7 linked regions of the Homo sapiens genome follow. The protein of the gene in region 6 interacts with the protein of the main gene of each other region in a biochemical or structural test. Each region holds a gene or a part of one and is shown on either strand. Other genes may lie near its edges.

Region 1 (3,500 bases), on a different chromosome or scaffold from region 6:
TAAAGCCACTTGCGAAGGTCAGCTAAGGAATGGCTTAATGGACTCACAGCAAGCCTTGAACCCCAGACGATCTGAAACAGAGAGCACAACCTGGCAGTGCCAGCCTCTGTGGGGCCTGTGGGGTCCTGAGCACTGTTCAGGTATTGCCAATTCCCAGGTATCACCTAACGATAGCTCCTTTCCCCCAGGGTAAGTGAATTTCAGTGGGTTAGTGGAACATGTTTGTAAGCCATTTTAAAAATCCTCAGCAACAAACTGAAAATTGTCCTTTTTTTTCCCCCCTCTGAATGACTTCTGAACCTATCACAATGGAATGGGAAGTTTCTCTGCTCTGCTGAACACATTCAATAGACATACCAAGGCCTTTCCCTAAAATGTTCTACATAGATTCTTCTAACAAAAGAATAAAAATCACTGATAAAATATTTATCTTAAAATAGTTATTTTAGATAATGTTTTAAAAGTTTATTGCAGCAAATTTACACATCGGTTTCCTTCCTGGTGACTAAAAGACAACTCAATCAATATCTGATAAAGCTAAAATATCATGAGAATTAAAGTCACTGTTTATTAGTGAAGGTGTAACCTGTACTAAATGCCTTGCAAAACTCAAATAAGACTTGGTTTCTGGCCTCAAAGAACTTAAAATCTTGTATCTTGTTCTGCGAACCTAAACAATCCAAACTTTTAAAGTAGAATAAATTATTTCAACCTAATCTAAACTCTTAGAACTTAAGAGTCCTTGAAGCTCAAAATGGGCTCTTATTTCAAGAGGAAAATATTTTCATGCAATTCAATAATAATTAGATTTTTCCCATCATTTGAGACTTACGAAATTTAGTCTCTGAAATAGGCTCATATTAGATTTGCTTCTAAAAATCAAAAGGGAGAAAAATAGGAAACACTTATTAAAGAAATTCATAGGAAAATGATTTAGATATCTAAGAAAAGAGATAAAGTAGGAGGATGATTTTAGCTCACTAATTCATATTTTTACGTCTATGCCAGTAATTTTCCATCAAAAACCTTTCTATTAAAACTCATTGTCACACATTTCCTATACTTGGAACAGAAGGTCCATATCAAAGATTAGTATTATTAGCATTTGTAAATGCATCTAATTATTTACCAGATAACACCATCAATATTGTGCCCATTCAACCTAAGGAAGCTGATTGCCAAAAACAAAAACAAAAGCAACAAAAGAGAAATTCCTTTCTCTCCTCAATTTATATTTATCACTTTCTTTAAAATCCGATACCTCACTCCTTCTAGAAAGCCTCTGAACAGACCAGGAGAGATCATTTCACTTCTCTGTATCCCCATCACTGAAATTTCTGTTGAGCTATCAATTTGCACTTGCACATATACTGCTTTAGGAAGGCTTCAAATAGTTGTATTTTGCCTCCTTAACTAGCTTTTAAAGTTCCTCAAGGGCAGAGACTATCTTCTATTCCTGCTGTAATGCCACACTTTCCCTAATGCATCTTGAAAACAACTCAGTTATTCTGATTAAAGAAAAGGAGGGAAGGCATAAAAGGTTCTTGTGAGGCTGTCAGCTTTTTATTCTTCTGTGGACCCTCCTGCAGCAGGGCTTTTGCCTGGCTTTGCCCTGCCCAGGACCACTGAGAGTAATCTGGTAATACGCATTTAGGTGAGAACCATGTTTTGAGCCACTTCCAGAGAAAATAATCGAATGAGTTATTGTCCATTCTGAAGTTATACAGGGATAAACTCTGTTTAAACAAATTGTCTTAGGTAGAACTGGACTGGACTTCAGGAAAGCCAAGACATACTAGAGCCCCTAGCACTGGTCAAAGGCAGCGAGGGGACTTCTCCCAGGGCCAGAAAGCACTGATCTGCCAAACCCAGAGAGGGAATGGGTGGGATCACGATGTCAGGGGTTACACTTACAGTCTACATCCTAGCAGAGATTTGGAATCTCTGGGCTCCTAAACTACTGCTACTTCTCCTCTGGGTTCCCAGTAAACATTATGAAGACTATCCCCTGTCATTAATAGAGTTAATGAAATCAAATACCAATTCTTCCGTCTCCTGATAACGAGACAACACTCGGATTCACTTTCTTATAATGGGAGTTCGCACTGACGTTAAAGTGTCAATGAGGAATTTCACCTTTTCTTTTTGTAAGCAAAACAGAAAAATCCTCTATTTTCATTTTTTCCCAGTATGGAATGAGTACTAGATAACCTTCCCTTTAATTTGCACTTCACATGGTGACCCTGACCAGTAGGTCTCCTCCCAACTCGTAAAGGTTTACCTTTTCATAAAGTAGCCAAAAATAAATTTATTCTTCTATATAGATATTTTTAGGTAAAAGTTACCTACTGTGCACTTCTAAAACTGTAACTTATCCTTAATAAGAGTTGTTGTTTGAGATCCTTGAATATAAATAATACTGGCTAACAGACTAGGAATGCTGCTACGGAGATACTTTTACTAAAGTAGGACATTATTTCTAATCTTTCACTAGAAACGATGTAGGCCATCAAGTAAACAGCTACTACATTCTATAGAACCAAAAATATCTGCCAAATTCTTGGGTGACTGTATTATTATTTTTTAAAAACATTACTCTCTACTTTCAAGACTAATTATTTCTATCTCCACTCCAGCAATTCTATTTAGTCTATGAACAAAAGGGCAAGAAGAGATTATTCATCTTTGGATTCTCCACAAAACCAGTAAAAAATATTTGCTGAATCAAATTATACTTAACTTTTGATAAGCTTTATCATCTCTAAACAATGTTTAATCAATTTCCTATGTAAATGTTTCTCAGAAGAAAGAACAAGTCCTAGAAGCAAAGTTTAATCTTCCCAGTGAGTCATTAAAAAGAAATTGCTTCTAAGCTTTCATGCTCATAAATACCTTTCCTGGGGTCTGAACCAGCAAGTCTCTTAAGCTACTACTTTAAAAAAAAATTGTTTGAAATTATCAATACACAAAATAAATTTCAAAGCTGCAAATGAAAAAAAAATGGAAAAGAATGAAAAGAATGTTTAATAAAATCTAATACTAAAGGCTAATAAATGTGATACTTCCTCTGCAATAGTTTTCAAATAGAGACTCAAAAAACCACTGAGTCCTAAATCTCTTCCTGCAAAAAAGATTTTGCCTGTGTTATCTCTACCAATAAAACAGGTTACACATTTAACCACTATTATTTCTCGATTCACATTGTAAGATCTCCATCCATTAAGGCCCAGAGTGAAAACCTTTGTATACAGTTTTCCTAAAAAGCCTTTTACCCTTTTCCCACAGTTCCACAAAAAGAAGAGTAACTTATGTTCAGAACACTGAATGTTGCTTTTAGTAAGTACCTGCAATGAAAATATCTTTATTGTCAATATTATCGATTTTTTATTTTTTATTATTATTATTTTTTCAGATGGAGTCTTGCTCTGTTGTCCGGGCTGGAGTGTGGTGGCATGATCTTGGCTCACCACAACCTCTGCCTCCCAGGTTCAAGCAATTCT
Region 2 (4,130 bases), on a different chromosome or scaffold from region 6:
ATGAATAAACCTCTATCCTTCCCTCCTTCACTAAAGTGGAGGTCCCCTAGGGCAGGGATCTTGTCTATCTCTTGGTTACTGTGTCCCCAGTGCCTACCCAGGGCTGGCAGACAGTTGTAACAGGAGTGACAGTCCCTGGCCAGCAGGGATATGGTGTGGGGGACAGAGGTGGAGCATTGAAGGGACCCATTGGGCAGCATTGTCCTCTGATGCCCCCGATGCTGGAGCTGTATTGGGGGAATGACTGTCATCACCGTCCTCTGAGTTACTTAATTCATTTATGGAAGTCAGTAAAGGAACCCAGCCTGCCTGTGCCTGCCGCAACTCCAACTTCTCCCAGCCACCTCTGCCTCAGTTTCCCTGCACTTGACGGGCTTATTGAGGTTGGGGAGGAGGGGGTGGGTGTCTCAAATGTCAAAGATTTAATGTGTCTTGATGTTACCACACAAAAGTTTTGTTTTGTTTGTTTTTTTGAGACAGTCTCCTCTGTCACCCAGGCTGGAGTGTAGTGGTGTGATTGTATCTCACTGCAGCCTCGACCTCCTGGGCTCAAGCGATCCTCCCACCTCAGCCTCCCACTACACCCAGCTAATTTTTTTTATTTTTTAAGAGATGGGGGCCACTGTGTTGCCCAGGCTGGTCTTGAACTCCTGGCCTCGAGTGATCCTCCTGTCTCAGCCTCCCAAAGCGGTGGGATTACAGATGTGACCCACTGCACCAGGTCTACACAAGGTGTTTTTTTTTACAGGGTGATGTGCACACGGTGGGTCCCTCTGGGTGGTCCCACAACAGATGAGGGGCCCAGCCTCACCCATCCATGAATCCTGGAGACTCCAGACTTCCCATCCATCCAGGGTTCTGCAGCCCTCTCTGAGGCTGGAGCCAATCTCCCCTTCCGTCAAGGGATCCGGGGAGACCGCCAAGCCCGGTGCTCCCCTGAGAGTCTCTGAGAGGCCCCGACACCGCCCCCGCTCCAGGTCCCCGGGATGCTCGCGCAGGCGGGAGCCCGGGGCGCCCGGGGGATCCCTGAGCGTCACGCCGCTGTTGTGGAGCGCGTGTTGACAACGTCGCCGGGGAGACGGGCGGGGGCGGGGCCCGGGAGAGGGGGAGGCGCGGCCCTGGCGGCGCGCGAGGGGCCGGGCTGTCAGCGCAAGGCCCAGGCCGCCGCAGTGGCCACGGCCGCTGCCGCCCGCCGGCTTATATACCGCGGCTAAATTTAGGCTGCGCCCGGAGCTCGTCCCCATCCGGGACGCGTTTCCGCCGCCGCCGCTTTGGCCCGGCCCCCGCGCGCGCCGCGCCTATAAGGCTTGGGCGGGCCCGGCCGCGGCCCACAGAGCCGTCCCCGCCCGCCCGCGCCCCGACCAGCCCGGCCTCGGGCAGCCACTCACCGGTGTCCCCGTCCGCGTCCTTTCTCCCCGGGTCCCGGCCATGGCGCTGAGTGAACCCATCCTGCCGTCCTTCTCCACTTTCGCCAGCCCGTGCCGCGAGCGCGGCCTGCAGGAGGTGAGGGCGGCGGGGACGGCGGGGCGGCCGGGACCGTGGGCGGCGGGCTCGGGGTAGTAGAACGTGGGCTGCGGGGTGACAGGACGCGAAGGCGGGGACTGCAGACTCAGGAGAGGAGGATGCGGGCCACGGGGATCGCGGACTTAGGGTGGTAAAAGGCAAGCAGCGCCCCCCGAGCCCCGCCGCCCGCTCACGCCCATTGCCCTGTCGCCCGCAGCGCTGGCCGCGCGCCGAACCCGAGTCCGGCGGCACCGACGACGACCTCAACAGCGTGCTGGACTTCATCCTGTCCATGGGGCTGGATGGCCTGGGCGCCGAGGCCGCCCCGGAGCCGCCGCCGCCGCCCCCGCCGCCTGCGTTCTATTACCCCGAACCCGGCGCGCCCCCGCCCTACAGCGCCCCCGCGGGTGGCCTGGTGTCTGAGCTGCTGCGACCCGAGCTGGATGCGCCGCTGGGGCCCGCACTGCACGGCCGCTTTCTGCTGGCGCCGCCCGGCCGCCTGGTCAAGGCCGAGCCCCCTGAAGCGGACGGCGGCGGCGGCTACGGCTGCGCCCCCGGGCTGACCCGTGGACCGCGCGGCCTCAAGCGCGAGGGCGCCCCGGGCCCGGCGGCTTCGTGCATGCGAGGTCCCGGGGGCCGCCCCCCGCCGCCGCCCGACACACCGCCGCTCAGCCCCGACGGCCCCGCGCGCCTGCCCGCGCCCGGTCCGCGCGCCTCCTTCCCGCCGCCTTTCGGTGGCCCTGGTTTCGGCGCGCCCGGGCCCGGCCTGCATTACGCGCCGCCTGCGCCCCCAGCCTTCGGTCTCTTCGACGACGCGGCCGCCGCCGCGGCAGCCCTGGGCCTGGCGCCCCCCGCCGCCCGCGGTCTCCTCACGCCGCCTGCGTCCCCGCTGGAGCTGCTGGAGGCCAAGCCAAAGCGCGGCCGCCGCTCTTGGCCCCGCAAACGCACCGCCACTCACACCTGCAGCTACGCGGGCTGCGGCAAGACCTACACCAAGAGTTCGCATCTGAAGGCGCATCTGCGCACGCACACAGGTGGGCGGCACGCACGAGCCAGGAGCGCAGGCGGGGGGACGCGGGAGGAGAGGTCGGATTCCCAGCGCGCGCCAGAAAATGAATTTAGGACCTCCCTTGGGGCGTGGCTCAGGGGGATCTGGCAGGTGGTGCACGCTTAGGACTCCCCAGGAGGCGTGGCTCGGGAGGTTGGTTGGGGGGGCACACAGGAACACTCCCTAAGGAAGTGTGATCCGAGAGGTTGGGGTGGGGGCTTGCACGCTTAGGACGAGGGGGGCCTCCGGAGGTTGGGAAGAGCACTTAGAAAACCTCCTGGAGGCGTGGCTAGGGAGACAGTCTCAGAAAGTTGGGGAGGGGGAGCAGGTTTAGGAGCCGCTGGGCACTTGGCTCAGAATCCCCGGGGCTGAGGCTCAGGTAGTTGGGGAGTAGGTGCGCGTTTAGGAACCCCGGGGAGATGCTGCGTCTCAGGAAGTTGGGGAGGGCGCTCAGGCTTGGGACTCCTCTGGGGACAAGGCTCAGGACCTTGGGGAGGGAGTGTTCGCTGGGAAACCTTGAGAGATTCCGTGTCTTAGAATGCTGGAGAGAGGGTGCATGCTTAGGACCCGTCGGGGAGCGTGGCTGACAACAGTGGGGAGTGGACCTTGCGCTCCTCCGACCCCCTGGGGGTGAGGATCCGGATTGTGGGGGGAGTTGGGGATGTAGGGCAAGGATCCCTCAGGGGCGCAACACTACCGCGGGGAGCGCGTCAAGGCCCTGGTTAGGGATAGGTTGCGCTCGCCGGGGTAGCCATACGTGCCCTGTCCTGGGAGGGGAACTGACGCTTACTCTCGCCCCCTCCCTGCAGGTGAGAAGCCCTACCACTGCAACTGGGACGGCTGCGGCTGGAAGTTTGCGCGCTCAGACGAGCTCACGCGCCACTACCGAAAGCACACGGGCCACCGGCCATTCCAGTGCCATCTGTGCGATCGTGCCTTCTCGCGCTCCGATCACCTGGCGCTGCACATGAAACGGCACATGTAGCCGGGACGCCCCCGCCCACCTGCGCGCGGCCGTGGCGGGTCCCACGCGCCGGGCGCGGCCCCCTCCCAAACTGTGACTGGTATTTATTGGACCCAGAGAACCGGGCCGGGCACAGCGTGGCTACAGAGGGTCTCCCTCGATGACGACGACGACGACGCCACCACCCCAGCCCCCGTCTGTGACTGAAGGCCCGGTGGGAAAAGACCACGATCCTCCTTGACGAGTTTTGTTTTTCAAAATGGTGCAATAATTTAAGTGGCATCTTCTCTCCCACCGGGTCTACACTAGAGGATCGAGGCTTGTGATGCCTTGTGAGAAATAAGGGCCTTAATTTGTACTGTCTGCGGCATTTTTTATAATATTGTATATAGTGACTGACAAATATTGTATTACTGTACATAGAGAGACAGGTGGGCATTTTTGGGCTACCTGGTTCGTTTTTATAAGATTTTGCTGGGTTGGTTTTTTTTTTAATTAAAAAGTTTTGCATCTTTTAAAAAAAATCACAGCACTGGTCTGGTTGCTTGGAACTGGGGCCTTGGGGCACTTGGGAGGAGGGGGGAGCGGAGAGTTTGATGGAGGGCAGCCCCACTA
Region 3 (2,296 bases), on a different chromosome or scaffold from region 6:
GCCCCTCCCGCTGCCAGCACTAAGGAAAGAGCGGGGACCCAGACACTGGAAGGAGAGGGGCCCCGGCATGGTGCTGGGCTGCAGCCAGGGAAGTAGCCTCACCGCTGACGTCTGAGATCGTCAGGTTATATCGAGAGGCTGCTTCCGTTTTATACTGATTGAACTGTGTCTCCACGTCGTGGACATTGATGGTACCTTCTCGGAAGGCCAGAGTCAATTGTACCACCACAGATCCTGGCCTGGTCACAGGGAAATGGGCACTTCAGCCACGGGTCCCAGCTCTGGCTCAGCACTCTTCCCCCAACCTTAAGTGCACCAGTCCCTCCCTACGGTCATGACCACCACCCACCCTCCAACCACCACACTGGGTCCACACCCAGAACTGTACCTGAACTTAATATTGGAGAGGCCCAGAAAACCCCCTTGTTTATAAATCTGCAAAAACTGGGGTGAGAGGGAAAGGACTCAGGCTTGATGCAAAGGGTGTGGACAGTTCTGATGGCTGCTTCAGGGGAGCATGGGGAAGGAAAGGCCGATACTCACCATTTCAGAAATGTCTCTCTGCAGCTCTTGGTAGTAGTCGGTGCTGGGATCTTCCAGAGAGGAATTAAACTGGAGGTTTGAAATGTGAAAAGACAGGAAAAAGAAAGAGACCCCAGTAGACAACTGGGGAGAAGTGCTGTGATTGGAGGAGGTGAGAGGAGGTACCGTGCTATGGTGAGTGCTACTGGCATCAGTCTTGGTGCTATGGCTGGCAAGGGTGGTAGGAGTATCAGAGTGGTGGCTGGGAATTGAGAATGGAGTGCTCTTGCTGGCTGGGGTTGTGGTAGCCCTGGCAGAGGTGCCGTTGTGCACCAGAGTAGAAGCTGAGCCTGATGCAGAGCCTGAGGCCGAGGTGACATTGTGGACTGGAGGGGCGGTGGAGCCCAAGGCGGGCCTGTTGTCCGGGGCCGAGGTGACACCATGGGCTGGGGGGGCGGTGGAGCCCGGGGCCGGCCTGGTGTCCGGGGCCGAGGTGACACCGTGGGCTGGGGGGGCGGTGGAGCCCGGGGCCGGGGTGGAGCCCGGGGCCCGCCTGGTGTCCGGGGCCGAGGTGACACCGTGGGCTGGGGGTGCGGTGGAGCCCGGGGCCGGCCTGGTGTCCGGGGCCGAGGTGACACCGTGGGCTGGGGGGGCGGTGGAGCCCGGGGCCGGCCTGGTGTCCGGGGCCGAGGTGACACCGTGGGCTGGGGGGGCGGTGGAGCCCGGTGCCGGCCTGGTGTCCGGGGCCGAGGTGACACCGTGGACTGGGGGGGCGGTGGAGCCCGGGGCCGGCCTGGTGTCCGGGGCCGAGGTGACACCGTGGGCTGGGGGGGCGGTGGAGCCCGGGGGCCGGCCTGGTGTCCGGTGCCGAGGTGACACCGTGGGCTGGGGGGGCGGTGGAGCCCGGAGCCGGTCTGTTGTCCGGGGCCGAGGTGACACCGTGTGCTGGAGTGTCGGTGGAGCCCGAGGCCGGCCTGGTGTCCGGGGCCGAGGTGACACTGTGAGCTGGGCTGCGGGCGCGGTGGAGCCCGGGGCCGGCCTGCTCTCTGTTTTAAATATACACCGTGGGCTGCGGGCGCGGTGGAGCCCGGGGACGGCCTGGTGTCCGGGGCCGAGGTGACACCGTGGGCTGGGGGGGCGGTGGAGCCCGGGGCCGGCCTGGTGTCCGGGGCCGAGGTGACACCGTGGGCTGGGGGGGCGGTGGAGCCCGGGGCCGGCCTGGTGTCCGGGGCCGAGGTGACACCGTGGGCTGGGGGGGCGGTGGAGCCCGGGGCCGGCCTGGTGTCCGGGGCCGAGGTGACACCGTGGGCTGGGGGGGCGGTGGAGCCCGGGGCCGGCCTGGTGTCCGGGGCCGAGGTGACACCGTGGGCTGGGGGGGCGGTGGAGCCCGGGGCCGGCCTGCTCTCCGGGGCCGAGGTGACACCGTGGGCTGCTCTCGCGGTGGAGCCCGGGGCCGGCCTGCTCTCCGGGGCCGAGGTGACACCGTGGGCTGGGGGGGCGGTGGAGCCCGGGGCCGGCCTGGTGTCCGGGGCCGAGGTGACACCGTGGGCTGGGGGGGCGGTGGAGCCCGGGGCCGGCCTGGTGTCCGGGGCCGAGGTGACACCGTGGGCTGGGGGGGCGGTGGAGCCCGGGGCCGGCCTGGTGTCCGGGGCCGAGGTGACACCGTGGGCTTGGGGGGCGGTGGAGCCCGGGGCCGGCCTGGTGTCCGGGGCCGAGGTGACACCGTGGGCTGCGGGCGCGGTGTAGCCCGGGGCGGGCCTTGTGTCCGGGGCCG
Region 4 (3,920 bases), on a different chromosome or scaffold from region 6:
TTGGCTATGAGAACAGCTTCTCCCACACCTTCAAATGTTGCCACTTCAGTAAGGCTCTTCCCATTTACAGCCTTAAGTTGTGACGCTTTTTACTGGTTTTCCCCGTCCAGTTCCTTCTAACATAGTGGAGTATGCTTGTTACCTCCCCTTCGCTAGAATGCAAGTTCCAGGCCAGGCAGGGATATTGGTTTTGTCCTTTCTACTTCAAACTCTGCCTAGGGTATAGTGGGCGTATGTCTACTGATGGAAATAAATGAATCAGTGCTTTCATGTCAGTGTGTAACATTTTCTTGGGTTTAGATGTACCTGCTATTGAAGAGGCAAAGTATCCTCTTGATATACTTTATTTCTCTGTAACCCTGGTACTAGAAATGTAGTATAAAATTATTTTTATATTTTCAAATAAAACATTCTGAAAATGCAAAACATCTAAATTAAATGGATGATTATCTTATGGAAAATACTGTGTGAATAAACTCAAAGGAATCCCAAACAAATAATTTAACAGTCATAATAATCCTTTATTAGTACCAGCTCTTAAAATTTTTTTTTTTTGCCAGAGCTAAACAATTTAATATAAAAAATGCCATTTTTTGTCCATACAGTATTTATAAAAAAGTACATAGTGGTTAGTTTTGCAATAATTTCTTTTTAGCCAGATGTCATATCATCATATAAATCTATGAATATAACAAATGACATAAGAACAGTATAAATAAGTTTTTGTAGTATTTACACTTACACAGAAACTAGCCCAAATGGTGTCCTAAGAAATTGTTTACAGTTAAAGTGAAACTACTGATTCAACATACTGACACTCCAATGCTTTTTAAAGTTTCGTATTATTTTCTATACTAGTTTTGGCTATGATTTTGCATAGAATTACTTATAAAGTATGAGCATTTCACATCACAGTAGGAGCTTTTAGTATAATAGTACAAAAAAACTAGCTCAGAAAAGGTCAAATCCTCCTAAATCTAGTTTTTCTTAACATCTGGCTTCTTACTTTTGGGAACAAGGAAAACATTGCCATCTCTTGTTTGCTGCAGGGAGTATTCACTAGGAGAATAAGGTTTTCCATCTTCATCACGTAGCATGCTGAAAACTTCGAGATATAAGGTGCTGAGTTGTTTTTTCAGTAGGTGAAGGCTTTTGTCATTTTCTCCTTTTTCTTTGAGCAATTTTTCTTTTTCATCTTTCAAATGATCTAAATCTTGCTCTAGTTCTACTATATTTTCCAGTTTTCTTTTTCTGCAATTCTGAGCAGCCACTTTATTCTTACCCCTCCTACGTATATCCCGAATTAATGCAAGTTGAGCTTCATTGAACTGCTCTTTGGACATCATTTCGTTGAAGTCAACAACAGGGAGGTTAATGATTTTTTCTACAGGGAATGGGATATGGAGAGCTTTTGCCCTAAGTTCATCTCTTGTGAGATGAGCCTCCAAGCGGCTTGAATGTTTGTCTTTTGTGAATGGGGTTTTCCGATGACCAGGACTTACAGGCAATTCTTTCTCTGGTGTGTTCTCACATTGGGCATCATGCACGTGAGTGCTCTGCCCCTGAGATGGTGACAAGGGTTGTACCATATCCCCAGAAGAATGTACTGGTGTTTTAGGACCATTCTGTTTGACACTTCCAGGGGCACTATCTAGCTCTTCCACTTCAGAATCACTGAGGCCAAGTAGTGTGTCTCCATAGCTGGAAGATTCCACTGAGTGTTCTGGTGATGCCACACTGGGACTTGTGTTTAGTGAAATGCCGGAGTCAGAATCATTGAATTCTGCTGTGCTTTCAGGGTGGTTTTGGTTGAAAGCTTTGCAAAGTGATAGATCAGAAACATCAATGGGCCCATTTAGAAGTTCAGAGAGTGAATGGCTTAAAGTAGCAGGTGAGGGCATGCTGTTGCTGATACTGGGCTCAGCTATGAAAGCAGAATAAAATTCATCACCAAAATCTGTGTTGACTGTGGCATCTGAATTTAATGAGTTCACTGTCAACTGGTTGGGGTCTTCTGTGGAGAGGATGCTGCTGAAGGAATCCTCAAAAGCATTAAGAAAATGTGGACTACAGTTACCTACTTCTTTTTCCATTGAGGGTATAGATGAGTAAAAATGATAATTGTCAACTTCTGTCAGTTTGGCTTCTGGACTTGGAACCATGGTAGTCTCAACCAGCTTGTCATTTTCAATATTAAGACACTGCATGAGAAGGAAGTTTATACTATATAAATCAAAGTTAATCCATGATAATACGTGATAAATTTAGATAAACTCCCTACCCACATTATCTTCAGGCTTATCTCTATAATTTATTATCTATAATTCAGAGATAATTCTCATTTCCAATACATATTTACGCCTAAGCGTTATGTATTATTTTCAGAGTTCCCAGATCAGACGTCAGGTTTATAACATTCTATCCTCAAGATGTCCAACCAATTTAACTAGCATGGGCAGTACTCATGACTAAGTTAATAGCACCCTCCAATCCTTCCTATAAATAGGTGGTATATAAATAATCAGAATGACTAAAGGCACTGAATATAAAAAAAATCTCCAGTATTACATTCTATTTTAGTTACCTGTAACTCAGGAATGGATAATAGCTCCTCCCAAACTTGCTCAATGTCCTGTTGCATACCGTCTAAATCAACAGGGGCTACCTGAGCAACAGAAGTTTCAGGTGACTGAGCCTGATTAGTAGCAATGAAGACTGGGCTCTCGATGTGACCGGGAATATCAGGAACAAGTGACTGAAACGTAGCCGAAGAAACCTAAAATTGATAAGGCATTGATTTATGAGTCTTCCACCAACAGGGGATGAGTAAGCTCTAAGGCACCACTACAAAACAAAATGGAATCAGCTGCAGTTCTGTGTCTCTCTACTTACTAACCAGTCATGACCCCGTTTGTAAATAACAAATCTTTTTTTCCTACCCCACTGACTCAAATTTATAATTTGCTGGTCTGTTTCAGCTTAAGCATTTGAAAGTAAACTTTAAAATGCGTAAGTACAATCTTTAGGATTTAGTTTATATAATATCTAGCACAGTGGTACTAGATAAAACAGATTTATTAAAATTGTTAACTGAACAAGTCTTCGTTTATTGCCCAGCTGGCTCTTTACTCACCAAACCTCTTAGATACTTGCAGCAAATGGGTTATTTGTTTCCATGGTTATGCTGTCCATGTTTCTGGCTATGCAATAGTCAATGGTTTTGGTTTTGTATTGTGTGAAGGGTTTTTTTTTTTCTTAATTGTAAAGTTATTTATAGGCTAAGGTTTCCTTGACAAGAGTATTTCCTTGGTTAAAAAATTTCCTCCTAAAAATGTTTTTATTCTTTTAAATGGAGATTCATTGACGGGACTTACATAGAATAGATTGTTATTTTATAGTTATGATGGAGTTTTTCTATTAACCAGGTTATTTTATACCTCACCTCATTGTCATCTACAAACGGGAATGTCTGCGCCAAAAGCTGCATGCAGTCATCAAAGTACAAAGCATCTGATTTGGGAATGTGGGCAACCTGATAAAAGGGAATGACACAAAGGAAAACAAAAATGGTTAAATATTCCATTGCCAAGCTAAATATTCAATAATTGATGTTCATAAAATATTTATAATCAAGTTAAGTAAATATTTATCTTATTTCAGAGATCACTTTGATGCACAATTTGAACTAGACCACATGGGTTCAGATCTTAGCTCCTCCAATTTTCTGAGTGATCTGGGCAAATTATTTAACCTTTGTGAGCTTCAGTTGCTCATCGTAGATAAAACAGGGATAATGGTAACTAATTAATATAGTTGTGTTAATTAAATCAGTCAGTATATGTTCTTAAAACAGTGCTTGCCACACACAGTAACGCCAGTAATCCCTGCTACTTGGTTCTCCTGCTACTACTTCTGTTGCT
Region 5 (3,500 bases), on a different chromosome or scaffold from region 6:
GGGCGGCAGAGGTTGCAGTGAGCTGAGATTGCGCCACTGCACTCCAGCCTGAGCGACAGAGCGAGACTCCGTCTCAATTAAAAAAAAAAATCAATCCTCTTTGGTTTAATGTAAGGTCAAAATTTAAGCATGGGCTTGTGTGATTCTATAGCTCATCTTCTCTTCTTTCACGATGTTACCTTTGATAATAACTAACATATGTAATGTGCTTTACAATTTAGAATGTTTTCATATATGGAATCTAATTTAACCTACATAATATATCATAGGCCTCATCTGAAATATGAGGAAACAGTAGTTCTGACTGTTACTCATCAAAGGTCATGCACCCAGTGATTATGACCAATATAGGTCTAAGGAAATTACTACAAGGATTACTGGCAGAAGGGACAGTCCAATGAGGTAGCAGAAAATGTTAGGCTTCCTTCCCTTTCAAGGCCTAAAAAATTAGCTAGAACCATAGAAAGGTTAAGTCACATGGTAATATATGCTGAGATGTCTGTGTTTTTTTTTTCTTTTCTTTATTTTTGAGATGGAGTCTCACTCTGTCATCCAGGCTGGAGTACAGTGGCATGATCTCAGCTCACTGCAACCTCCACCTCCCAGGCTCAAGTAATTTTCCTGCCTCAGCCTCCTAAGTAGCTGGGATTGCAGAGGCATGACCCAGCTTTTTTTTTTTTTTTTTTTTTTGTATTTTTTTAGTAGAGATGGGGTTTTGCTCTGTTGGTCAGGCTGGTCTTGAACTCCTGACCTCAAGTGATCCACCTGCCTCGGCCACCCAAAGTGCTGGGATTTCAGGTGTGAGCCACTGCGCCCAGCCAGATGTCTGTATTTCTGTATTTAAGGTGAATAAGATGATTACAGAAATAAGAATAAAATTTCAAACCATAATATTTTATAAGTACCAGGGAATGCACAATGGCAGCAGCCTTGTCCGGTTTAAGAAATCAGCTTTAATCCACTTGGTTCAACATCTGACCATCTGAGATCAAGCTATTCTCAGTCTGTACAGGTAAACGTGACTTTTCACTATGACCCATATCCTCGAAAATACATAAAACTATATCATAACAAGGTGAATCACATGTATCCATAACAAAGACTGGGTACCAAATCATACCAAAATCAAATCCCAAAATGTATCAAACAGCAGAGCTACAAATGTATCACAATTTAAAACAATAAAAGCCCATGCCAAGTCCTGCAAAATGGACATAAGTATGTTTTTATCATATAAAGGATAACCTATTATTAACCACATACAGAGCAGATAAAATATATAATCCATAAATTTGGCCTCAAATTCCTGTTTTTGTTTTTTGAGATAGGGTCTTGCTCTGTCCCCCAAGCTGGAATGGGGTGCCCTGATCTTGACTCACTGCAACCTCCACCTCCTGGGCTCAAGTGATCCTCCCACCTCAGCCTCCAGAGTAGCTGGGATTACAGGTGCACGCACAACCATGCCCAGTTAATTTTTCTATTTTTAGTAGAGATAGCATTTTACCATGTTGCCCAGGCTGGTCTTGAACTCCTGGACTCAAGGGATCTCCCTGACTTGGCCTCCCAAAGTGCTGGGATTAAAGGCATGAGCCACCATGCCTGGCCTGGGATTGTTATGTGGAATTTTTTTCCTTGACAAAATCTCAGATAATCAGGCTTAAAAACTATTATAATGGGTTTTGAATCGTTGGAATCAACTAGTCCTTAAGCCCAGCCACCCTGGGTTTTTTGTTTGTTTGTTTGCTTGTTTGTTTGTTTTGAGACAGGGCCTCACTCTTGTCACTCAGGCTAGAATGCAGTGGTGCCCTCATGGCTCACTGCCACCTTGACCTCCCGGGCTCAAGCGATCTTCACAGGCGCGTGCCATCACATCCAGCTAATTTTTTTATTATTGGTAGAGACGGGGTCTCACGATGTTGCCCAGGCTGGTCTCAAACAATCCTCCCACCTCAGCCTCCCAAAGTGCTGGGCTTACAGGTATGAGTCACCATGCCTGACCCTGTTACTTTACAGATGAAGAAAGTGCAGTATAAAATAATACACTGGATAAATAAAAAATGTATTTTGAAAGACTTCAGGCTGGGCGCAGTGGCTCATGCCTGTAATCCCAGGACTTTGGGAGGCCAAGGCAGGTGGATGACCTGAGGTCAGGAGTTCGAGACCAGCCTGGCCAACATGGTAAAACACTATCTCTACTAAAAATAGAAAAATTAACTGGGCATGGTTGTGCGTGCGCCTGTAATCCCAGCTACTTGGGAGGCTGAGGCAGGAGAATCACTTAAACCCAGGAGGCAGAGGTTGCAGTGAGCTGAGATTGCACCAATGCGCTCCAGCCTGGGCAACATGAGCAAAACTCCGTCTCAAAAAAAAAAAAAAAAAAAGGCCAGGTACGGGGGCTCACACCTGTAATCCCAATACTTTGGGAGGCCAAGGCGGGCGGATCACAAGGTCAGGAGTTCAAGACTAGCCTGGCCAACATGGGGAAACCATGCCTCCACTAAAAATACAAAAATTAGCCGGGCGTGGTAGCACATGTCTATAATCCTAGCTACTCAGGAGGCTCAGGCAGGAGAATCACTTGAACCCAGGAGGCGGAGATGCAGTGAGCTGAGATTGTGCCACTGCACTCCAGCCTGGGGGACAGAGTGAGACTCTGTCTAAAAAACCAAACCAAACCAAAAAAAAAAAAAAGACTGCTGGGCGCAGTGGCTCACACTTGTAATCCCAGCACTTTGGGAGGCTGAGGCGGGCTAATCACGAGGTCAGGAGATGGAGACCATGGTGAAACCCCGTCTCTACTAAAAATACAAAAACATTAGCCAGGCGTGGTGGCGGGCACCTGTAGTCCCAGCTACTTAGAGAGGCTGAGGTAGGAGAATGGCATGAACCCAGGAGGCGGAGGTTGCAGTGAGCTGAGATCGCACCACTGCACTCCAGCCTGGGCGACAGAGCGAGACTCCGTCTCAAAAAAAAAAACAGAAATGTTAACTATAGAATGTTGAAGGGGGGGGGGGGATTAAAACAACCTGTAGACAATATGATCGTCATTATTCTATTTCATAAATTTTCTATAATAAACACATATCTCTGGCCAGGCACGGTGGTTCATGCCTGGAATCCCAGCACATTGGGAGGCCGAGGCGGGCAGATCACATGAGGTCAGGAGCAAGACTCCGTCTCAGAAAAATAAATAAATACATAAAATAAAATAAGCCAGGTGTGGTAGCACACCTGTAGTCCCAGCTACTTGGGAGGCTGAGGCAGAAGAATCGCTTGAACCTGGGAGGCGGAGGTTCAGTGAGCCAAGATCTCACCACTGCACTCCAGCCTGGGTGACAGAGCTAGACTCTGTCTGAAAAATATATATATTATATATGTAATATATTTTACATATTATATTGTGTTATATATTATATATATTTTACATATATTGTATTATATATTATATATAATATATTATACATGTAATATATTATATACTATATTATATATATCATACA
Region 6 (3,500 bases):
AGTGGCACGATCTCAGCTCACTGCAATCTCCGCCTCATGGGTTCAAACGATTCTCCTGCCTCAGCCTCCTGAGTAGCTGGGACTACAGACGCACACCACCACGCCCCCGCTAATTTTTGTATTTTTAGTAGAGACGGGGTTTCCCCACGTTGGCCAGGATGGTCTTGATCTCCTGACCTCGTGATCCACCCGCCTCGGCCTCCCAAAGTGCTGGGATTACAGGCGTGAGCCACCGTGCCAGCCGAACTAAATTGTGTTTCTAAATCTTATACCACATCAAATGCATTACAGACACAAGTATATTGGAATAATTTACTAAAAATGTCCATTATGTACTGAGTATTAGCTCATTTAAAAAAATAGAAAACTCAATAACGTAAAATGGAATATTCCTTTTTTATATAAATTTAAAGGCAGAAAATCTCAGGGAAAACAAACTTCTTTAACTCTACTCAGTTTTTCCTTGCTGTTCTATTCACATAGGTTTTTATATAAATATACATTTATACATTACACTCAACAAATTTCAAAAGCAATTTGATTTGTATAACCAAGGATGATTTGTATAACTCAAGATAAAATGCCAAGAGTGCAACCTCCGCTTTAATGAAAATGCTCTTCTTCTGAACAATGAAAATGCTTTTATTCTTGAAATCGGGGAAAACTCCCCTTCCACCACCACCACCCCACACACACACACAAAAAATCAGCTAGAAAATGATAAACATTCCAACAAATTAATTTACTTATGGTGATTATGTTCTTAGAAGAACAATATCCGGGGAACCCGGTTGGTCCTGTTAGTACCAACACACACTCTTGTCTCACCCACACAAGCGTTCTGCCCCTCCATTCTCCATTATAGGGTGGAGCATCACAAGAAGCACCACAATCTCACATCCTGTCTGTCATCTCCAACCCTGTCTCAACTTCATGGGTCTTATTTAAAAGTATGGAACTGTGACAATAGGGTCAACATATGCATGTTTCACAGCCTTCTCTATGCATAAAGTGCACACACAAATAGAGCTCTCCCACTCTTTAGACTCTGCTGCTGGAATAAAATCTCTGACTTTCCCAGCCTTGCTGTTTCTCCAAAATATTATCTCACACCTGCAACTCAATTCTAATATAAGGGCTACACAGTAAAGCGTGCAAGTACTGATTTTCAGCTGAACTTTGCCAGTGAAATGAGAAGATGTCACCTCATTTTCTAAATGCAGTTCCCAATCAGCCATAAGGTGATTTGTGAATCACTGGGTTCCCTTGAAGTTTTTCCTTTTGCCTGTGACTTACTGTCACTTCACAATTAGCATTCTACAGGTGCATGCAACAAGAAAGCATGCAATTCTTAAATATCTTAAACGTTTTAACAACTCTGGGGAAGTCGGGTTGGGAAATGACTGAAAATAAAGTTCTGGTTTTCAGTCTCACACATGAACTCTTTTCCACATTAACACAGGATTATCAAGAAATGGACTAAACTCTAATAACCTAATTTTTAGATGTCATAAAGAGATTAAACTTCCCAGGGGAATACGGAAACTCTAAGTTGCTACCTACTCTTTGGCTTTAATCACCATACGACGTAATACTGCAGAATAATATGCAGCTACTATTATTCTCTCTTTGCTAATAGAAATTTTGATCTAAAAAAGTTTTATATGAGGAAACAACTTAAGTGATACAGACTTATTTTCATATTTCTAAATCTTATATTTAAGTATTAAACCTAAACAACTAGCTAAATTTTCTCCAATTGTATATACCAAAAGGATTACTAATATTTTAACCAAAAGTGCCACAAACAGTCCCTTACTTTCCCTATGGAGTAAAATATCATGTGATTCTAAAGAAAAACTTTATAAACATTTATTTAATTACATGTAAACTTGGAAGTGAACAAAAATGAAACATTGGTTTCACTATAGCAAGTAAAAAGTAGTATTTCAAATATACTGATTTAAATTTGGGATTAATGCCTAAACTCAACAAAAAGGGCAAAAAATACTTGTTATAAAATCAACTTTTAATTTCTTCTGGAGTCTTCACAAAGTGAAGGCTCTCAATACTTTATTCTTAGATAAATTTTGCATTTAAAATAATAGTAATAATCATTATTTATAAAAAACAAGTTTTAAGCATATATCAAAGATTAATGGCTACATATCTAAAATGTTACAGTCACAGTTTAGTCCCAAAAGTATTTTCATTGATCTGAAATAAGCCATCATGAAACTATTATAACCAGGTTTCAAGTGTGAGGCTTTTGAAGCTGTATATAAAAAAAAAAAAAATTAGGACTTTGATGAGAAGCATTTAAATAAAAGCCCTTAGTTTACTGCTCCCGAATATAAATCCAACATCTTTAGGTGTAGAAAAATTAGAAACTGTGCAATTAATAGACTAGGAAGTCAAATATCATTGCCAGTAACTAACTGCTGTCTGAATTTCAAGGGAACTTATTGTATATTAAATTTTAAGAAAGTGAACTCACCTACCCTCTCACCTCAGCACTTTCTCAATTTTCCCATTACAATTAACAATATAACTTAGCAGTCAAGTCTTCCAGGCCAGTAACATCAGAATTTATTTTTAACTCTTGACTCCTTCACAAATATTCCACTTCAGTCCAGTATGAAGTTCTGCCAGTTCTTCATTCACACTGTCTCTCAAACCTGTTCCTTTCACCCCACTTTCACATTTTACTTTATTCCCTCATGATTCACAACATACCCTACTAGCTCCCTAAAAAGGCTCTAGCATCTCTCTACTATAATTCACTAATTCAACTGCAAAAATCATCTTACGTCTTATTCAGCAACCAACAATAAATCCAGATCTCTTCTGAATCTCAATCAAACTTGTACAGAACCCCTCTGCCCTCCATCAGCTAACTTTCTCTTATTTCTCAAATTCCATCTGTTCTTATGTTCTTATTTAGGCCCCTTTAATTCAGATTTGTCAACTTGATTATTGTCTCTCATGCAAAACTCACCATCATTGTTCCTTGGTACACTCCTTCCACCTAGACCTTTCATGCTTTTCTACCAGTTCAAGTTACCACCTCCTTTAACATCAGTCCTAATACACCTTGTCCGCAGGAAGTCTTTCCTCTCCCAACCATCAGTCTCACCCCTTTACTCTTTGCCACTCTGAACAAATGATTCAATTTGTATTTTACAATCTTGCAGTCATCACGCTATTGTTTTAATTTTTTTTTCCCCATAGCCTCCCTCTACAACTAAAGGATAAGCTTTTGAGAGCAAGGACTACAATTTCTTATGTCTGTTTTCAACAGGGGTTCCTTAGAATGCTAGCATCCTAACAAATGCTTAAAGACTCCCCTTTCTTTTAAATGCTTTTAAAGTCAAAGCTGTCAAAAACACATAATTAACACTAAACTCCAACTTTTAAAATTCTAAATTGACCTATATGGTAATCGGAATTAAACATTTTCATCTATATATTTTACAAGAGTTACTCCATCCTTAGTTAGT
Region 7 (3,500 bases), on a different chromosome or scaffold from region 6:
TGCAATCCCAGCGACCTGGGAGGCTGAGGCAGGAGAATTGCTTGAACCTGGGAGGCGGAGGCTGCAGTGAGCTGAGATCGCGCCATTCCACTCCAGCCTGGATGATAGAGCAGGACTCTGTCTCAAAAAAATGAAAAAAAAGAATAAAAAATAAAAACAAATATATATATATATATATATATGGCATCTGTATTTGGACTCCACACAAGATTGGCCTCTGGGTTTTTCCTGATGCCATGGTTTCTCCAATGGCCTCCATCTATGATGTTCCTTTACTCCTTTTGCTCTGTACCCCATGCCCGTACCTCTTTTACCCCATTGGCCTCTCCACTCTAGTATTCCCATTATCTCCACAGTGCACCCCAGTTCCCATGCATTCTCTCCAAGTCCCAGGAAATCAAAATCCCTCACAAACTAGACAGCATTTGTTCCCCTAAATGACCTCTGCCAGGACACACATACACACTTAGTTGTGGATGAGGTCTGCATTCTGAGCCCAGAAAACCCTACTTTCCTCTTTCCCTTGATTCTTCTTCTTTGCCTCCCTGAAAGGTGGACAGGAGAGCTCAGGCTTGAACCTGGGCAAAAAGATCAGTGTCCCAAGGGATGTGATGTTGGAGGAACTGTCGCTGCTTACCAACCGGGGCTCCAAGATGTTCAAACTGCGGCAGATGAGGGTGGAGAAGTTTATTTATGAGAACCACCCTGATGTTTTCTCTGACAGCTCAATGGTGAGTCTGGAACTTTATCACTATCTCAAAGCCTGGTGCCTGTTCTGACAGCTTGTTAGTAGGCCCTGAACCTCCAAAATGCAGTCAACATCCCCTCCCTGAAAATTTATAAATTTGTTAAACCCCCAGATATATTGAGCCCGCAACAGCTCCAGGGTGAGTTACAGCCCACCTCTGAAACCCAGTTTTCATCATAGAGCCACTGAAGGGTTGGAGAATACCACACCCTTAGGGAGAAAATTCCTTCCCAGTAAAGGTAAGTGTTAAAGATAGATTGCCAGATAAAACACAGGATGCCCAGTGGGGCAGTCCAGTCTTGTATTTTGAAGTTGAGATACACAATGAATAATTTTTTAGTGAAGTATGCTCCATGCAATATTTGGGACATAAAGATAAAAATTTAAAAAAATTTTAGAAAGAAGATAAGGCAGCCAGGCATGGTGGCTCACACCTGTAATCCCAGCACTTTGGGAGGCCGAGGCAGGTGGGTCACCTGAGGTCAGGAGTTTGAGACCAGCCTGGCCAACATGGTGAAACCCCCATCTCTACTAAAAATACAAAAAATTAGCTGGGCGTGGTCGTGGGTTCCTGTGATCCCAGGTACTCAGGAGGCTGAGGCAGGAGAATCACTTGAACCCAGGAGGTGGAGTTGCAGTGAGCCCAGATTGTGCCACTGCACTCCAGCCTGGGCAACAAGAGTGAAACTCTGTCTCAAAAAAAAAAAAAAAAGAAAGAAAAAAGAAAAAAGGAAGAAGATAAGGCAAAGAATAAAATTGAAATTTTAAAATACAGAATATACAATTAAATTTGAGTTTCAGATGCACAATGAATTCTTTTTTAAATATGTCCCATGCAATATTTGGGACATTAAAATAAAAATACAGGATGTCCACTTAAATTTGAATTTCAGATGCAAATGAATAATTTTTTTAGTATAAGTAAGTCCCAAGCAATATTTGGAGGCATATCTATACTAAAAAAGTATTTGGGTCAAGTGTGGTAGCTCACACCTGTAATCCCAGCACTTTGGGATGCCAAGGCAAGAGGACTGCTTGAGTCCAGGAGTTGGAGACCAGCCTGGGCAACATGGCAAGACTCTGTTTCTACAAAAAATTAAAAAGTTAGCTGGGTCTGGTGGCGCACACCTGTAATCCCAGCTACTCTGGAGGGTGAGGTGGGAGGATGGCTTGAGCCTGGAAGGTAGAGGATGCATGAACATGAGCCATGTTCACACCACTGCACTCCAGCCTGGGTGACAGAGAACCCATCTAAAAAAAAAAAATAAAAATTTGTTGTGCATCTGAAATTCAAATTTAAGTGGTATCCTATATTTGATTTGCTAAATCTGGCAACCCTAGAAAGAGTTAATTGAGTTTTTACAGCCACCTCCCATTTGAGCCATTCTTCCATTTAAAGGGTCAGTCTATTCCCTAAGAAGCCCCAGGTGTGGAGACTGAAACGGTCCTTCAAGATATATTCTAGTCAGGCTCCTTCTCCAAAGAAAGAGGAGACTGGAGAGGGGCCAGGCACAGGATGGTATAGCTGAGGAAGAAGGGCCTTCTCCATTTCCTTTCTTCCTCCTCCACCCTCTCTGAGTGGCTGGGGGAGAGTGGAAATAGATGCCTGCATGGGGCCGGGGGCAGAAGTGTCTGTCATTGGTCCTCATATAGGAGCAGAGTAAAAGTGCTGAGCTGCTCATATCTAACTTTAGGAGGCCAAAAGCACTCTTCTCTGCCTGGGTCTGGTTACACTGGGTGGAGCATTGGGGTGTACATGGTGGGATGGCCAGGAGAGCCTCCTGAAGAAGTTGGTGGGGTTATTTTTAGGCTTTGGGTTTGCATCTAATGTTGCCCTTTTGGCCACACTTCCCCCCACCTGCTACAGTGTCACTGTCACCAGTGAGGTCCAACAGGCACCAAGAGGAGAGAGGAAGAGAAAGAAGGAGAGAGAAGAGAGTTCTGACTGTTGGACAAGCTGAGGAAGGGAGGGGGCAGAATTTCTCTAGTCCTTGTAATTAAGACTGGGTGCTCCATGGCAACCCCATCCTCCCAAATTTTAGTTGGGGCTGGACACAGCTCATGCCTGTTATCTCAGCACTTTGGGAGGCTGAGGCAGATGGATCACTTGAGCCCAGGAGTTTGAGACCAGCCTGGGCACATGGCAAACCCTGTCTCTAGGAAAAAAAAAAATACAAAATTTAGCTGGGTGTGGTAGCATGCCAGTAGTCCCAGCTACTTGAGAGGCTGAGGTGGGAGGATTGCCTGAGCCAGGGAGGTGGAGGTTGCAGTGAGCCGAGATTGTGTCACTGCACTCCAACCTGGGTGACAGAGCCAGATTCTGTCTCAAAAAGCAAAAGAATTTTTTTTCATTTTTTTTTTTTAAAGCTGGGCAGGCGTGTTGGTCTTTTTTGACTTGTTAAGGATGAGAAAGGGGAGTGTGGAGAACACGCTGCCCTTACCCTAGGTATAACTGGAGGAAACGAGCCAAGGGAGTCCTACCTCTTAAGAAGAGTTTAATTCGGGCTGGGTGCGGTGGCTAACGCCTGTAATCCCGGCACTTTGGGAGGCCGAGGTGGGTGGATCATCTGAGGTCGGAGTTTGAGACCAGCCGGACCAACGTGCAGAAACCCCACCTCTACTAAAAATATATCAAATTAGCCGGGTGTGATGGTGCATGCCTGTAATCCCAGCTACTCGGGAGGCTGAGGCTGGGAATTGCTTGAACCTGGAAGGCTGAGGTTGCGGTGAGCCGAGATCGTGCCATCACACT

What was found.
Region 1: of the proteins of GSK3B (region 6) and KLF5, one has a biochemical effect on the other in vitro, tested with the Homo sapiens proteins (2 studies listed by BioGRID).
Region 2: of the proteins of GSK3B (region 6) and KLF2, one has a biochemical effect on the other in vitro, tested with the Homo sapiens proteins (one study listed by BioGRID).
Region 3: the proteins of GSK3B (region 6) and MUC1 form a complex in vitro, tested with the Homo sapiens proteins (2 studies listed by BioGRID).
Region 4: of the proteins of GSK3B (region 6) and NFE2L2, one has a biochemical effect on the other in vitro, tested with the Homo sapiens proteins (2 studies listed by BioGRID).
Region 5: of the proteins of GSK3B (region 6) and XIAP, one has a biochemical effect on the other in vitro, tested with the Homo sapiens proteins (one study listed by BioGRID).
Region 7: of the proteins of GSK3B (region 6) and MYOZ1, one has a biochemical effect on the other in vitro, tested with the Homo sapiens proteins (one study listed by BioGRID).

The regions. Positions count from the first base shown.
Region 1 is NC_000013.11:73,069,005-73,072,504, reverse strand, and holds part of KLF5 (Krueppel-like factor 5), read right to left. Parts: intron 1-3,500. UniProt on the Homo sapiens protein: Transcription factor that binds to GC box promoter elements. Activates the transcription of these genes.
Region 2 is NC_000019.10:16,323,496-16,327,625, forward strand, and holds the start of KLF2 (Krueppel-like factor 2), read left to right. Parts: upstream 1-1,330; 5' UTR 1,331-1,428; coding exon 1,429-1,503; intron 1,504-1,720; coding exon 1,721-2,537; intron 2,538-3,360; coding exon 3,361-3,536; 3' UTR 3,537-4,130.
Region 3 is NC_000001.11:155,187,620-155,189,915, forward strand, and holds part of MUC1 (mucin-1 isoform 10 precursor), read right to left. Parts: coding exon of another isoform or gene 1,621-2,296; intron 1,316-1,620; coding exon of another isoform or gene 998-1,315; coding exon 544-997; intron 445-543; coding exon 389-444; intron 240-388; coding exon 103-239; intron 1-102. UniProt on the Homo sapiens protein: The alpha subunit has cell adhesive properties. Can act both as an adhesion and an anti-adhesion protein. May provide a protective layer on epithelial cells against bacterial and enzyme attack.
Region 4 is NC_000002.12:177,229,808-177,233,727, forward strand, and holds the end of NFE2L2 (nuclear factor erythroid 2-related factor 2), read right to left. Parts: intron 3,533-3,920; coding exon 3,443-3,532; intron 2,777-3,442; coding exon 2,585-2,776; intron 2,202-2,584; coding exon 978-2,201; 3' UTR 501-977; downstream 1-500.
Region 5 is NC_000023.11:123,866,553-123,870,052, reverse strand, and holds part of XIAP (E3 ubiquitin-protein ligase XIAP), read right to left. Parts: intron 1-3,500.
Region 6 is NC_000003.12:120,087,948-120,091,447, forward strand, and holds part of GSK3B (glycogen synthase kinase-3 beta), read right to left. Parts: intron 1-3,500. UniProt on the Homo sapiens protein: Constitutively active protein kinase that acts as a negative regulator in the hormonal control of glucose homeostasis, Wnt signaling and regulation of transcription factors and microtubules, by phosphorylating and inactivating glycogen synthase (GYS1 or GYS2), EIF2B, CTNNB1/beta-catenin, APC, AXIN1, DPYSL2/CRMP2, JUN, NFATC1/NFATC, MAPT/TAU and MACF1.
Region 7 is NC_000010.11:73,634,975-73,638,474, reverse strand, and holds part of MYOZ1 (myozenin-1), read left to right. Parts: intron 1-552; coding exon 553-731; intron 732-3,500. UniProt on the Homo sapiens protein: Myozenins may serve as intracellular binding proteins involved in linking Z-disk proteins such as alpha-actinin, gamma-filamin, TCAP/telethonin, LDB3/ZASP and localizing calcineurin signaling to the sarcomere.